2 linked regions of the Homo sapiens genome follow. The protein of the gene in region 1 interacts with the protein of each later gene in a biochemical or structural test. Each region holds a gene or a part of one and is shown on either strand. Other genes may lie near its edges.

Evidence for each region.
Region 2: the proteins of KLF6 (region 1) and NUFIP1 form a complex in vitro, tested with the Homo sapiens proteins (one study listed by BioGRID).

The regions. Positions count from the first base shown.
Region 1 is NC_000010.11:3,775,364-3,782,366, reverse strand, and holds the end of KLF6 (Krueppel-like factor 6), read left to right. Parts: intron 1-152; coding exon 153-726; intron 727-2,137; coding exon 2,138-2,261; intron 2,262-2,776; coding exon 2,777-2,828; 3' UTR 2,829-6,371; downstream 6,372-7,003.
Region 2 is NC_000013.11:44,938,683-44,944,694, forward strand, and holds the end of NUFIP1 (FMR1-interacting protein NUFIP1), read right to left. Parts: intron 4,993-6,012; coding exon 4,760-4,992; intron 2,641-4,759; coding exon 2,524-2,640; 3' UTR 567-2,523; downstream 1-566. UniProt on the Homo sapiens protein: Binds RNA.

The sequences.
Region 1 (7,003 bases):
CACGGATGCTTAATTACAAAAGGTTTTGCCCCTGTAGTGACCGGGCAGCAATGTTATCTGTCCTTCATTCTTGCATGTTTTTGGAAATTGCTTTTGCTTTTACTTTTGGTCGTCATGGCAATCACGTGCCTTCTCTGGTTCATTTTGCACAGACCTGCCTAGAGCTGGAACGTTACCTCCAGAGCGAGCCCTGCTATGTTTCAGCCTCAGAAATCAAATTTGACAGCCAGGAAGATCTGTGGACCAAAATCATTCTGGCTCGGGAGAAAAAGGAGGAATCCGAACTGAAGATATCTTCCAGTCCTCCAGAGGACACTCTCATCAGCCCGAGCTTTTGTTACAACTTAGAGACCAACAGCCTGAACTCAGATGTCAGCAGCGAATCCTCTGACAGCTCCGAGGAACTTTCTCCCACGGCCAAGTTTACCTCCGACCCCATTGGCGAAGTTTTGGTCAGCTCGGGAAAATTGAGCTCCTCTGTCACCTCCACGCCTCCATCTTCTCCGGAACTGAGCAGGGAACCTTCTCAACTGTGGGGTTGCGTGCCCGGGGAGCTGCCCTCGCCAGGGAAGGTGCGCAGCGGGACTTCGGGGAAGCCAGGTGACAAGGGAAATGGCGATGCCTCCCCCGACGGCAGGAGGAGGGTGCACCGGTGCCACTTTAACGGCTGCAGGAAAGTTTACACCAAAAGCTCCCACTTGAAAGCACACCAGCGGACGCACACAGGTCAGTGCCCACGCGGGCCCCGGAGGGCGGCCGCTGGTGGGCGCCACTGCATTGCACCAGCCCTGGAGGGAGCCGGGCCTGGCTGCACAGGATGTGGTCAGGGCAGACAAATCCTCACTTCCTCAGATGTTTTCCACCAAAGCATTAGGTCTTTTTGGAGTTCAGAGTAGAATCCTAAAGACTGGACTTTTGAGTTGGATAAATGTGTAACAATTTTCAGATTAAACAAACAAGAGACTAGATCCTTTTCTCCACGGACACCCAAACCTCCACCCCCCACCCCTTAGTAGTGCTGGGGATCCGAGGCCACTGCCCCTTCACCAGTGCACTCGCACGAGGCTACCTCGAGCGGCCCTGGGGTTTCCTAAATGAAACTCAAGGGTCAGGACAGAGGGTTGCTGGGCAGCGTGGAGTGTGTGGGTTTGATGCTGACGGCCCGAGGCCCGAGTGGGACCGGCCTGCTCTGTAAGCAGCAGCATTGATCAGCGAGTGTTTCCTGAGAACTTCTCCGTGTCTCATGCAGCCTTTGTTTCTGATACCGCTTGAAACAGTTTCTTAATGAAATGCCATACCTAGGTGAAAGTGCTATTTAAAAATACCTTGACATGTTCTAGGATAATTGGTGAGGAATCACAGAACATTTAGAACTGGGAAGGGTCTTAGTGATCACGTGATGCAGGCTCTTCTCTTATCAGTAGGAGAGCAAATTGCTGAGAGTCAGTCCCAGACAGGCTTGGTGACAGCTGAGATTGAGATCCGGGTGGCCCAATATCCAGGCCCAGGCCTGTCTCAACATACCCTGAGATTGGCTTGACAACTTTGTTTTCTCAGGTAGCACTTGTAGTAAATTCATATTTATGATTTGACCAAGGAATGAAGTGAACCCAGTTGTTCAATTGCCATTTAGAGAATGATTCCGGGGCCCTGTACTGGGGCTTTCCAGAAGCTCGTAACTTCAGCTTTGTAGAAAGGTAGAACGTCCCTGAGGAAACTGCAGAGGCACATTCCATAGGGAAGTGAGGATGGAACAGAAGTGTGTTTGGGAGAAACAGTTGCCATGAAGAAAGCAATAGCTCTGCCTTTGCCGGGGCTGTGGGTCCGGCAGGCTGACACCTCATCCCGCAAGCATTTTGCTGGTCTGAGTCGTGGTCGTTCTTCCACGTTAACTTTGATGACAGCACCATGGGCTTGGCTGAAGCTGTGTCCCTTGGACAGCAGTGGGAGGCCTGAGACTGGGTCAGGAGAGAGCTGCTGTTGTCTCTCTGAGGCTGCCAGTTGTTGTGTGTTACCGATGCCAGAAGCCACTGGGTCCCTGGCCTTGCATCCCACCACTGTGTGTGTTGTTGAATTTCCCCTTTCCGTCTGCGGGTCAGTGAAGTCATGGGCTGCTTGTCCTGTGCTCTCTCCCCAGGAGAAAAGCCTTACAGATGCTCATGGGAAGGGTGTGAGTGGCGTTTTGCAAGAAGTGATGAGTTAACCAGGCACTTCCGAAAGCACACCGGGGCCAAGCCTTTTAAATGCTCCCACTGTGACAGGTACGTGCCTGAGGACAATGCTGGGCAAGGAGCGTGGGGCCTTGGGAATGTGATGACCAGGGTTGAGTAGGTGTGCAGGGCACATTCGAAGGAAGGCATGCAGTTTCCTATGTGTGAACATTTCTTTTCAAGCCTGGGACTTTTTAGAAAGTTTCTGGTGTGCTCATTGTCCATGGTTAGGAAGAACTGTTCCACATACACCTGACATTGGAGTCAGTTTATTGATATGTTTGGAGATTGGCCTTTCAACAGTTTTCATATTTGAAGAATTAGAAATGAAGTCCGTTCAGATTCTCCAAAGAACCTCCAGCCACTGGTGGGGGACATTCTTAATTCACATTCCTATCAGTTGGTATCTCCTGTCCCTGAAGACACTGATGAGGCTTGGGAGGAGAATCCCACCTTTCCCTGCAGGGGGTTAGGCTGGGCAGGGCAGGGAGGTGAGGGCGCTGGTCCAGAACACTGGCAAGGGATGGGAACCTAACTTCTTCTGTGCTTCTGATTTGCCCTTGCAGGTGTTTTTCCAGGTCTGACCACCTGGCCCTGCACATGAAGAGGCACCTCTGAGGGAGCAGAGAGGTGGATCCTGTAGGCTAAAAGGCTTCCAGGCTGAGAGCCGGCCGTGGAAGGAGGGATGCGTGTTCCAGCCAAAGCATGCCGTTCTGCACCCTACCCAGTTGCCTCCAGGGCCTCTCCTTGGAAGGTCTTTTGAGGGCTAAAAAGGTCCTGTAAGAAGCGGCATAGCACCCGTGGTGCATGGTATGTGGGTGACCCTGGACTCGCCACTGGTACCCGCCCTTCCGAGCGGCGCCTAAGCCTTTGCCGTGAGCATGCACACTGAGAATGCTAATGGTTGGGTTGATTGTATGTTGAGGATCTATTACTGACCGTATGATGAGGCCAACTTTTTTTCCTTGTGGTTAGCAAGACTGCAAGAGATGGAAAAAAAGTAGTTTGAATGTTTTGTGTGTAAGGAGTATACCATGAGATGAGATGACCACCAATCATTTCCTTGGGGGGAGGGGGTGTCTGCACCTTAGAAAAAAAAAGAAAAATCAAAAAAACAAAAAAACAAAAACAAAAAAAGAAGGAAAATCTTGGAGGGTGGGCGTGGGAACTCAGGACCCCAGAGTGGCGAGTGGTGTGGGGAGGGAGAGCCTCTCTCCCCCTTTTCTGTGTGAGAGGAACTCTTAGTGTCTGGTGCAGCTATTAAATGTGCAATGTGTCAAGTAGCTTGTTTTACACGCTACAACATAGCTCATTTGTAACCCATTGTATAAGCTGTGTATTTACAAATATAACACAACAATTTAACTTTTCCTTAGAATACAAAAAGTCATGCATGGTCTGGGGAACTATATGCTTTTCCATTTTTAAGTCAGGACTGCAATACTGATTCCAGTTAATGAGCAGCTAAGATCCAATCTGTCTAATACAGTGACCCCCTAGCCATCCGGGCCTGGCAATATACAATTTTTTTTCCCCTCCAAGTTTGTAACACTCCCCTTCCAGAAAGGCATTGTGCAACACAGGATTATTTTTAAATGATTCTGAATTTGAATTAACTTTTTGGAGAATTCTGTGATGCCCTTAGAAGAAATTGGACACGTATTGAGTGTCACAAAGCTGGGGCTGGGAATTGCTGGTCTAATGTTTCATTAGACTTAAGAACCTAAAATTTTTCTCAGTTGGGTGGATAAAACCACTAACGCTTAGAAACTGTTTTCTCATGCAGCTATGTTTCTCTTATTTATGCCTTGAGGACTAATTTCTGGTTTTCTAGCTGTTAATGCACTGTTGACCTTCATAATGGTGCCTTACGCAAGCGATCCCTTCTGTGGGGGTCTCATACAGGGGTGTGGGCGATGCATGCTTTATTAAGGCTCTTGTTTCACCTGGCAGTGTACTGTATCAACGTATAATACAGAAAAAAAATCTCTTTAAGGTCCTCCTTCACAAAGACATAGAGTGAAACTCCCTTTACATGTCAGTATTTGTTCAACACTTTAGGCAACTTGACTGTCAGTGTTAAAATGGAAAACAGGAAAATGGAAAAATCTGACCAATTCTGCCACCTTGAGACTTTCATATAGACCTTGCACAACAATTGTATAGATCACACACCGGCTGTATTTAATATGTAACATTTTCACACATATTAAAGATACAGAAGTATTAAAAAACCCCCAATGTTAATGTATTTGCTTAAAAGGCACAAGTTTCACATATCTGTCTAGCTATCTGTTGGTAATACAGAAAGTATACTACTTTTTTAAAAAAGTGGGCAGAATTCTTGTGTATGTATATTTGTGTGTACAGTATGTGTATGTGTGTATATATATATATTATATATATAGATAATATATAAATATTTTTTTTAAGGAGAAACTAGAATGTTTAGCTAGAAAATTCCACAGCCTGTGAAGAAATATTTCAAAATGGCCATAAAGGAGGTAAAAATGAAAACCATAACCTAACTTTTATAGAGGCTTTATCTTTAATTTAACGATGTGCGGAGGACTTTCTTGCTTGAATCTGTTCCGGGCTGTCTGCTCTGTCCATCAAATGGGCAGGTCTGGAATGGGGCACCTTCGGCCGTTCAGAAGTGGCCTGAACAGAATGCTGGAACCCAGGCTGGACTCGGACACACTAAGGTTTTGATTTTGAATTTCAGCCTTATTAGAAGATCTAACCTAAGAGTAAGCTAACCACAGGGATTCTTTTGTAGAACACTTTTTATGCAGATGAAGCTATTTTTTCCAGCAAGTAGATTCTTCCAGTTTTTCCAAGGAGTAATTTCCCCGAATTGGCATACCACGGCGTGGACAGCTGATATTTCACCCAGCTGCTGGCTTGTGGGTGTGGCTCTTTGCTTTATATATATATACACACATGTGAGTCTGGCTGGGCTGGTATTTTGTTTGATCTTCCTGGAAATGAGCAGTGACTAACGCTCACATAACTGGTTTTTTTTTTATCTGGGCTGATGAATACATTTACCTAAGAAACTCATTTCGTTTTACTTAAGAGGGGAAGTGCAGTTTTCTTTTGGCAGTTCAGAATCCAAGCACTTGATTTGCTGGGTTTGGAAAACTCCTTTTTTGGCCTTCTATGTGCTTAGCCATAACAATTCCATTAAGCAAGAAGGTAAGCAAAAGACAAAAAAAAAAAAAGGAAAAAAAAAAACTTGCACTGGCTTGTCTCACTTACGAAACATGTCGGAGCTGTTTGCCTGGGTGGGGCTGGGTACCGTACCTGTCAATGCCTGTGATTTTCATAATTAGCACGTACATAAAGAAGTACATTCTGTTCAGGTGATAACTGAGCCTCAATCAAGCAGAAACTTTTTGCTTGAAATTAAAAAAAAATTTCTATTAGTGAAATTTCTTTTTTTTTTTTTTTTGGAAGCACCCTGTTATCTAAAGAATCTTTGTAAGATTTTTGTAAAATTTTGTTTTACAAGATTTTATTTGAAATTGTTTTTTGCAAGATTGTTATATTTCTGTATGAATGTATTTTTTATTGGAATAACATAAAAGAATTCTTATCAGCATCTTGAGTCTGGTTGTTTTTTTTGGGGGAAGGGGGTTGTTGGAACAGATTCCTCCTGCATTCATCACCCTGGCTTCCTCCTGGGGGCAAATCTTCATTGAGCAACCCTGAGAACAACTCACCGACCTCAGCCCCTTCCTCTTTCCACAGCCTGTCCTGGGAGCTGGAGAGGATGTCAGCGAGCCTGACATTGCCCTCCCTGAATGCATCAAATACTCTTCTCCAAGGACTGACAAAAACAACCCCCCGGCTGTGGGCACAGTAGGGAACCATGCCGGTTTGATCTTCCATTGCTCAAGCCAGGGAATGCATTGCAGAGGCACCTGCACAACGACAAACTTGAGTGTTTCCCTGCCACTTCTGTGCCTCCACAGCCTGCTCCAGTTCCGCAGCTAGAGCTGGGCCTACCTTCCCCAGCCAGCCCTGCCACACACCTGGCTGAGGCATGTCTGGGAGGGGTGGAGGAGGCAGAGGGACTCCAGGCCAGAGGGCTGTTCTCACAACCTCAGCCCACTCTCAGTCAAGGAGGGCAGAAAATAAAAGATGACATCACTGCCAGAGGAGTTACATCTCTTTTTTTTCTTTTAAGGCCAATAAGATACATTAAATGTAGAGTTTGTTTGAAAATAGGCAGCCTTTTGTTTTTTAGAGCAATGTTTAGCAAGTAATCTCAGCTTTGCTTTACTGTGTGGACCAGGACAATTTGATCCTTGTAGGAGTCCATTTTCAGATTACACTAAGCCAATCAGTAGCAATGGGGTAAATCAATGTGTTTCCGTGGGAACCAGCTTCTTAGTGTGACAACAAGGATATTCTACTTGAGGTGGCTTAAGCGCTCACTCCTCTCCATAGCTCTTCATTTTGCTAAACGTGGGGAATTTACAGTGGTTGCTTTTAATTTTATAATTGGAGAGGGGATGGATGTTAAGATGTGTGCCCAGACTAGGAATGTTCATTAATTTTCTTTCTATAACTGTGGTAAAAATGTCAGCAGTTTGGAGGGAGCTGTGGTAGGGCAGGACGTGGGGAGCAGACGACATTATTGCCGGGATTCGTGGGCGTGTTCTATCCCCAAGCACATGTCAACATGACTCATGGTTGGATTGCCCCGAATGTACAGTCTAAATTTAAAGTCTTGATAGTCATTCGCGGCTACTATTAAGACTTGACCACTTTGTCATGGAAAGACT
Region 2 (6,012 bases), on another chromosome or scaffold:
GAGAGGTAATCGGATTGGTGTGACTTTAATCAACAATACTGGATAACAGCAAATGATTGTTATAGCTTCAAAATTCCAAAGGAAAATGATTTTGAGTCTAAAACCATAACTCAATTTAAAAAACTTTAAATTGAAGATTCAACATTTAATTACTTGAAGATATGCAGCAGCACACCAGAAAACTAATCCTGGGATGCAAGAGAAAGCAATCAGAAGAAAACAGTAAAACTCACAGTGGCCTAATAACTATTTACACATACGCACCAAGATCCCAGGGATTAATCTAAAACTAAAATCGTATCTGATTACATCACAAAAAGAGGCTGAGGTGGGGAAGTGAAACAATGCTAAGGTTACTGACTTAATTGGGAGATGGATGGAAGATGTGGCTACTAATTAACTCTAAACTTAAAGAAAAAAGGTAATCACTAAAGAAATAGCAATAGGTTTAATTACTTCCAAACCACTGGAGGAATAACAAGGAGAAAAAAATAACAAGCCAGTAAGATGACAAAATAAAAACAAGAGAGCATGATATATAGAAAATACAAAGTAAGACAGCCAGGAATAGTCCAAATGTTTTAATAATCTCAATTAATATAAATGTATTAAATTTCCCAGAGCTGGTTTGATTAAGGAAAATAGAAGTCAATTATAGAGGATATGAGAAAAAGTAAAGTATTTCAGTTATAAAAGGCACAACTCACCAATAGTCATGTAATGCTTACATTTCAGAAACTGATTAAACGAACAATAAGATAGGAATGTAGAAGGCAGAAAGTTTGAACAATTAACAAGCTAAATCCAAAAAAACCTGTACCCAAAACAGGCAAAGCACCCCTCTACCCACCCAAAACTCATAGAATATTTACAAATATTGACCATATAATTCCATAAAGTAGAAACCATACAGGCTATATTATATCTCCTTAGAAATTTTAAATACACTTGGAATCTGAAATACCCATTAAAAATAAACAATAGTCACCATAGCTAAAGACTGTCAGACATACAGCCAAGGGAGTACTCAGGAGTATTTTCAGTCCTAAATACATTTATTATCAGGAAACAAGAAAAATGGAAAATAAAACTGTTTCTATAATATACCTTAAGGCAGTGTGGGGATCAACAACATCCCTGGAGATATGGTCATCAATGAAAGTAGTCCAGGAGTCCATGAATTCATTTATTAACCCATAAGCCTATAAAATGTGTATGCTAACTAGTAATAAAAGTACAAACTGTGTTATATTTTAGAATATCAACTCAGTTGTAACACTAGTTACTTCATCCTGAGTTGGTTGGGAATCACATCTTTGAATATATCAAAATTAAACTGAGTTCCTTGAAGTCAGACATGGCCTTATTTATTTGTATACCTTTAATATAGGCACAATAGAGGTACAAAGAGTAAGCACTCAACAGTGTTACATGAATTGAATTAGTTAATGTATAAGGCAGATAATTTCCCAAAATATGGGGCTCACTGGAGGAGTAGGGTGAAACAGAATAAACAGATCTGTATGGTGGGTACAAGGCTGGAAAACACTGGCTAAACATGAATCTTCATCTCAGGTCTGTGACGTCACTAGGGTCACATGCCAGGTGTTCCAAGATTCTGGAGAGGATTTTACCAACATGGAGGAGCTATCAGCTTTCTTACCTTTCTTCCTTGACAGCAAGATTCATGAACTTCAATAATCACAATGTTAGGAAAAGTTAATCTTCAACTATAACAAACTAATTTTTTACAAATTTAGTCCCTTTTAGCTGTATGTCAAAAGGACAGACCAATAGCTACAGCTAGTACAATGACTAGAACACAAGCTCAAATTCCCTGGTATTATAGGAGACAAAAAGATCTCAATAGCTTTCATTTACTTTACAATTTTTAAAAAGCTTCAATTAAGTACTTCAATTTTATCTAAACATAAAGAGGCCCCATCTGTATTAATATTTTAAACATTCAATATTTGAGCTATGTAAGTCGTGCTAGTAGGTGAATTTAAACATGTCTTAAATAAGGAATATTTACATTTCGAAACCTTCTGATTGTATTAATTTGATCTGGTTTATTTTTAAAATATTCCCCCTTGCTACAGAACATCTTCCTTTTCTGCATTAAAAACAAAATGGCTGTATTTCTCTGCCCAACTTTGCTTAGCTGAATCAATCCTTTTAAAAGCTTTCTTCTTTACTGCTAAACCTATCTTCAATTCTTAACTAACACAACATCAGTCATTCTTACATGAGAACAATACATTAAAATAAATACAAAGAAAAAATTCTCCCAGCAAATACTAGATTCAATCCCAACAATACAGACACAGTCTTAAAAAATCAGTTATTTTTTTATTTGCATAGAACCAAAGGAAAGACTTAAAATTCCAACATACATCCTACGAGGCTTACAATTTAATTACAAATCCAATTTTGACGGAAAAAAGGGTTTTGGTTTTCCTCTACTAACGAGGATGATACTGTTTCACATGCTTCAGTTATGTATGCTGAAACACCAGATGCCTATACATCTTTACTTTTCGCAGAATTAGTATCCAGTCCAAAAAAGTCTTTTTTGATGATGTACCGAACACACTGCAAAATCACATTTCTTTCATGTCGAATGTCCGGAGCTAGAAGCTAAAACACAATTTAAAAAAAGATGAGGTAGTAAATAAATTATATCTGGGAAATACAATCTAAAATATTGCATGTACCCTCACCATATAAAGAAGACAGAACAATAAGAAATATGTATTATATTCACTATTTTGCTAAAAAACGATGCAAGAACATGTCCTTTTAATTTATATCAAGACTATCTAGCTTTTTATTTATTTATTTATTTTGAGACGGAGTCTCGCTCTGTTGCCCAGGCTGGAGTGCAGTGGCGGGATCTCAGCTCACTGCAAGCTCCGCCTCCCGGGTTCACGCCATTCTCCTGCCTCAGCCTCCCGAGTAGCTGGGACTACAGACACCCGCCACCATGCCCGGCTAATTTTTTGTATTTTTAGTAGAAACGGGGTTTCACCGTGTTAGCCAGGATGGTCTCGATCTCCTGACCTTGTGATCCACCCGCCTCGGCATCCCAAAGTGCTGGGATTACAGGCGTGAGCCACCATGCCCGGCCAAGACAATCTAGCTTTTTAAACAGTACTAACGCTTATATTTGGAGTCCTCTCTAAGAGTATCTAGCATAGGACAGGAAAATAGGTTTAAACGTCTGCGATTCTTTTTTTTTTGAGACAGAGTTCCACTCTTGTTGCCTAGGCTGGAGTGCAATCATGCGATCTCAGCTCACCATAACCTCCGCCTCCCGGGTTCAAGCAATTATCCTGCCTCAGCCTCCCGAGTAGCTGGGATTACAGGCATGCTCCACCATGCCCGGCTAAAAAGTCTGCAATTCTTTAATCTAAAATTATGTCAAAGAGGATTGCCCAAACCCAAATTCATAAGCAGTCTAGAAATTGGTAAGTACATCTATTTACATGTAACAATGAAAATAGCAGTAAAAACTTCCAACATTCCTTGACTTTTATAACTTTCCATTTTTGTGCTTATTGTAATTAAAAGAAAGCTAGAAATCCCTGGTATTTAGAACAAGCACATAATCAAGGAATCACATGTAGTTTGCCAAAAAGGAATTTATTTTATTTTCTGGTGTTATTGATAGAGTTCAGAAACATCATACAGAAACTTTCAGTGGAAAGCTCACTTAATTTACCAATTATAAGGTAACTTTTTAAAATGTAATTTACTATGTATACAAAATGGAGCGTATATTTCAGATCCATTTTAATAGGAAGCAACTGTGCTACATGTAGCACCTCAAGAGTGTAGCCACTGAACACTTTAGCTACAAAATAAGTACTTAACTTGTAAGTCAAAACCAAACAGACTTTTCACAGAATGTCAAGTTTTATAACTCCACTAAAAAATGTAAAATACTTCTATTGCTTAGACATGAAAATCTTTGATTTTCAAACAGCTTCATGTCCACTACTGAGAACTTGAAGATGCATTGCTTCCTCTTTATAATTTGAAGAAAGCTATTAGATTTTTGAGCACATAATGCTGAGAATAAAGCCACGAATGCACAGAATAAACACAAATAAATAAAGGTGTACAAAGAAAAAAAATTAGCATGGTAGTGCATGCCCATAGTCCCAGCTACTTGGGAGGCTGGGGCAGTAGGATCACTTGAGCCCAGGAATTCGAGGCCACAGTGAGCTATGATCACGCCACTACACTCCAGCTTGGGTGACAAAGCAAGACCTCAACTCTTAAAAAAAAAAAAAAAAAAAATAGGTGGAGGAGGGAGGGAAGGAAGACAATCCCAGAAGATAACAAATGAGAATTGTCAGAAAACCTTAGGCCTTTCCTTTTTGTTACTGTATGGTTCTCAATAGACATTTGTACTAAAAATCTTTTTTTCCCTTCAGCTTGCCATTGTACTTTTAGCTGTGCTTTCACTGGAAACTTAAAAGAAAGTCAATAAACCTCAGTAGATACTTCCTTACCAACTAGTGAAACCTAAATTTATTTTAAGTGGTTGTAAAAATTACATTATTCCACATTCACTGAATATACCAGCTATATGCCAAATGTAGCTACAGAATTAAGATACAAAGTCTCCAAGGTCAATGTGTCTCTGGTAACCTTAAAACAAACACACACACACACACACACACACACCCCAGTGGCTCTATCTTTATGATGTGAGAACACAAAGATTAGAACCTAAAGAAAAATAATTTACCATTTCCAAGAGATATGGATGGTGTGTTCTTGGTTCGAATAACGTTTGATAGTTGTGATAATCTTTTTTCCTCTTAGGGTTTGTTTTTTCAAAGCTTTTCTTTCGGTTCTCACTCTTGGCTTCTGAAAAATTTCTAACAGTTGCTTTAACATCTTGACTTGGACTCTTAGGAGCACTGCTATCAAGAACCTGGTTTTCTGCCAAAACGTCTGCTTCAGTCTTGATGGGAGTTTCTAAGTGTGATGAAAAACAAACACAAAAATAAACAAAACAAAACAAAACAGGTAGACCTTTCAAAAGCAACCAACAAATCCATAATAATCCTCCTAGCCATAATATTGTTCACTTAATAACTTAAAACTATGAAAGATTTTTGCAAGGCATTTATAATGTATTCTAGTATTTTTCAAATTGGAAGCTGTAACTACCAAAAATTGAGAAGACTACCATGAAGAGCTACAGAAAGTGATCTCTATGAAAGAAATAATGCCAGATGGAAACTTGGATCTATACAAAGGAAGGATAAGTGCTGGAAAAAGTAAATATGTGAATAAATATAAAAGACTTTTTTTCCTCATTGGCAAAATTTTAAAACTAAAGCAAAAATATTAAGTGTATGTGCAATTTATAACATCTATAGAAATAAAATCTCTGACAACAATAGTAAAAAGGCAGAAGGAATATGTAAGTAGTATACACTGTAAAATCTTAAATTACATGTGAAGTAGATATCATTTGAAAGTACACGATGAAAAGTTAAGCTGCATACTATAAACTGCAGACCAACTCCTAAAAAGTAAAACAAAGAAGTCAAAAGGATGAAAGAAGATACCAAGCATATACCAATCACATGAACGCCGAAAGTCTGTATTAATGTCAGACAAAAAAGACTTCAGAACAGTGAACATCACCAGGGATGAAGTGGAACAGTTCATAATGCTAAAGGGGTCAATTCGTCAATAAGACAAAGAATAACACCTAAGAACAGATTTTCAATATGCATTGCAGCGAAAACTGATAGAACTGAGAAGAGAATTAGACAAATCCATTATTATGATTGAATATTGAACGTTCCAATCTCAGTAATTAAAGAAAAATTGGACAGAAAATTCGTAGGGATACAAAATATCACTAACGATTAACTCAAATTGACAAAGAACACCCGACCTAATACATTTTCTTGTCAAGTTCATATGAACATTTACCTTGTGTTGGGCCATAAAATAAGTATCAATAAATTGAAGAAATTGAAA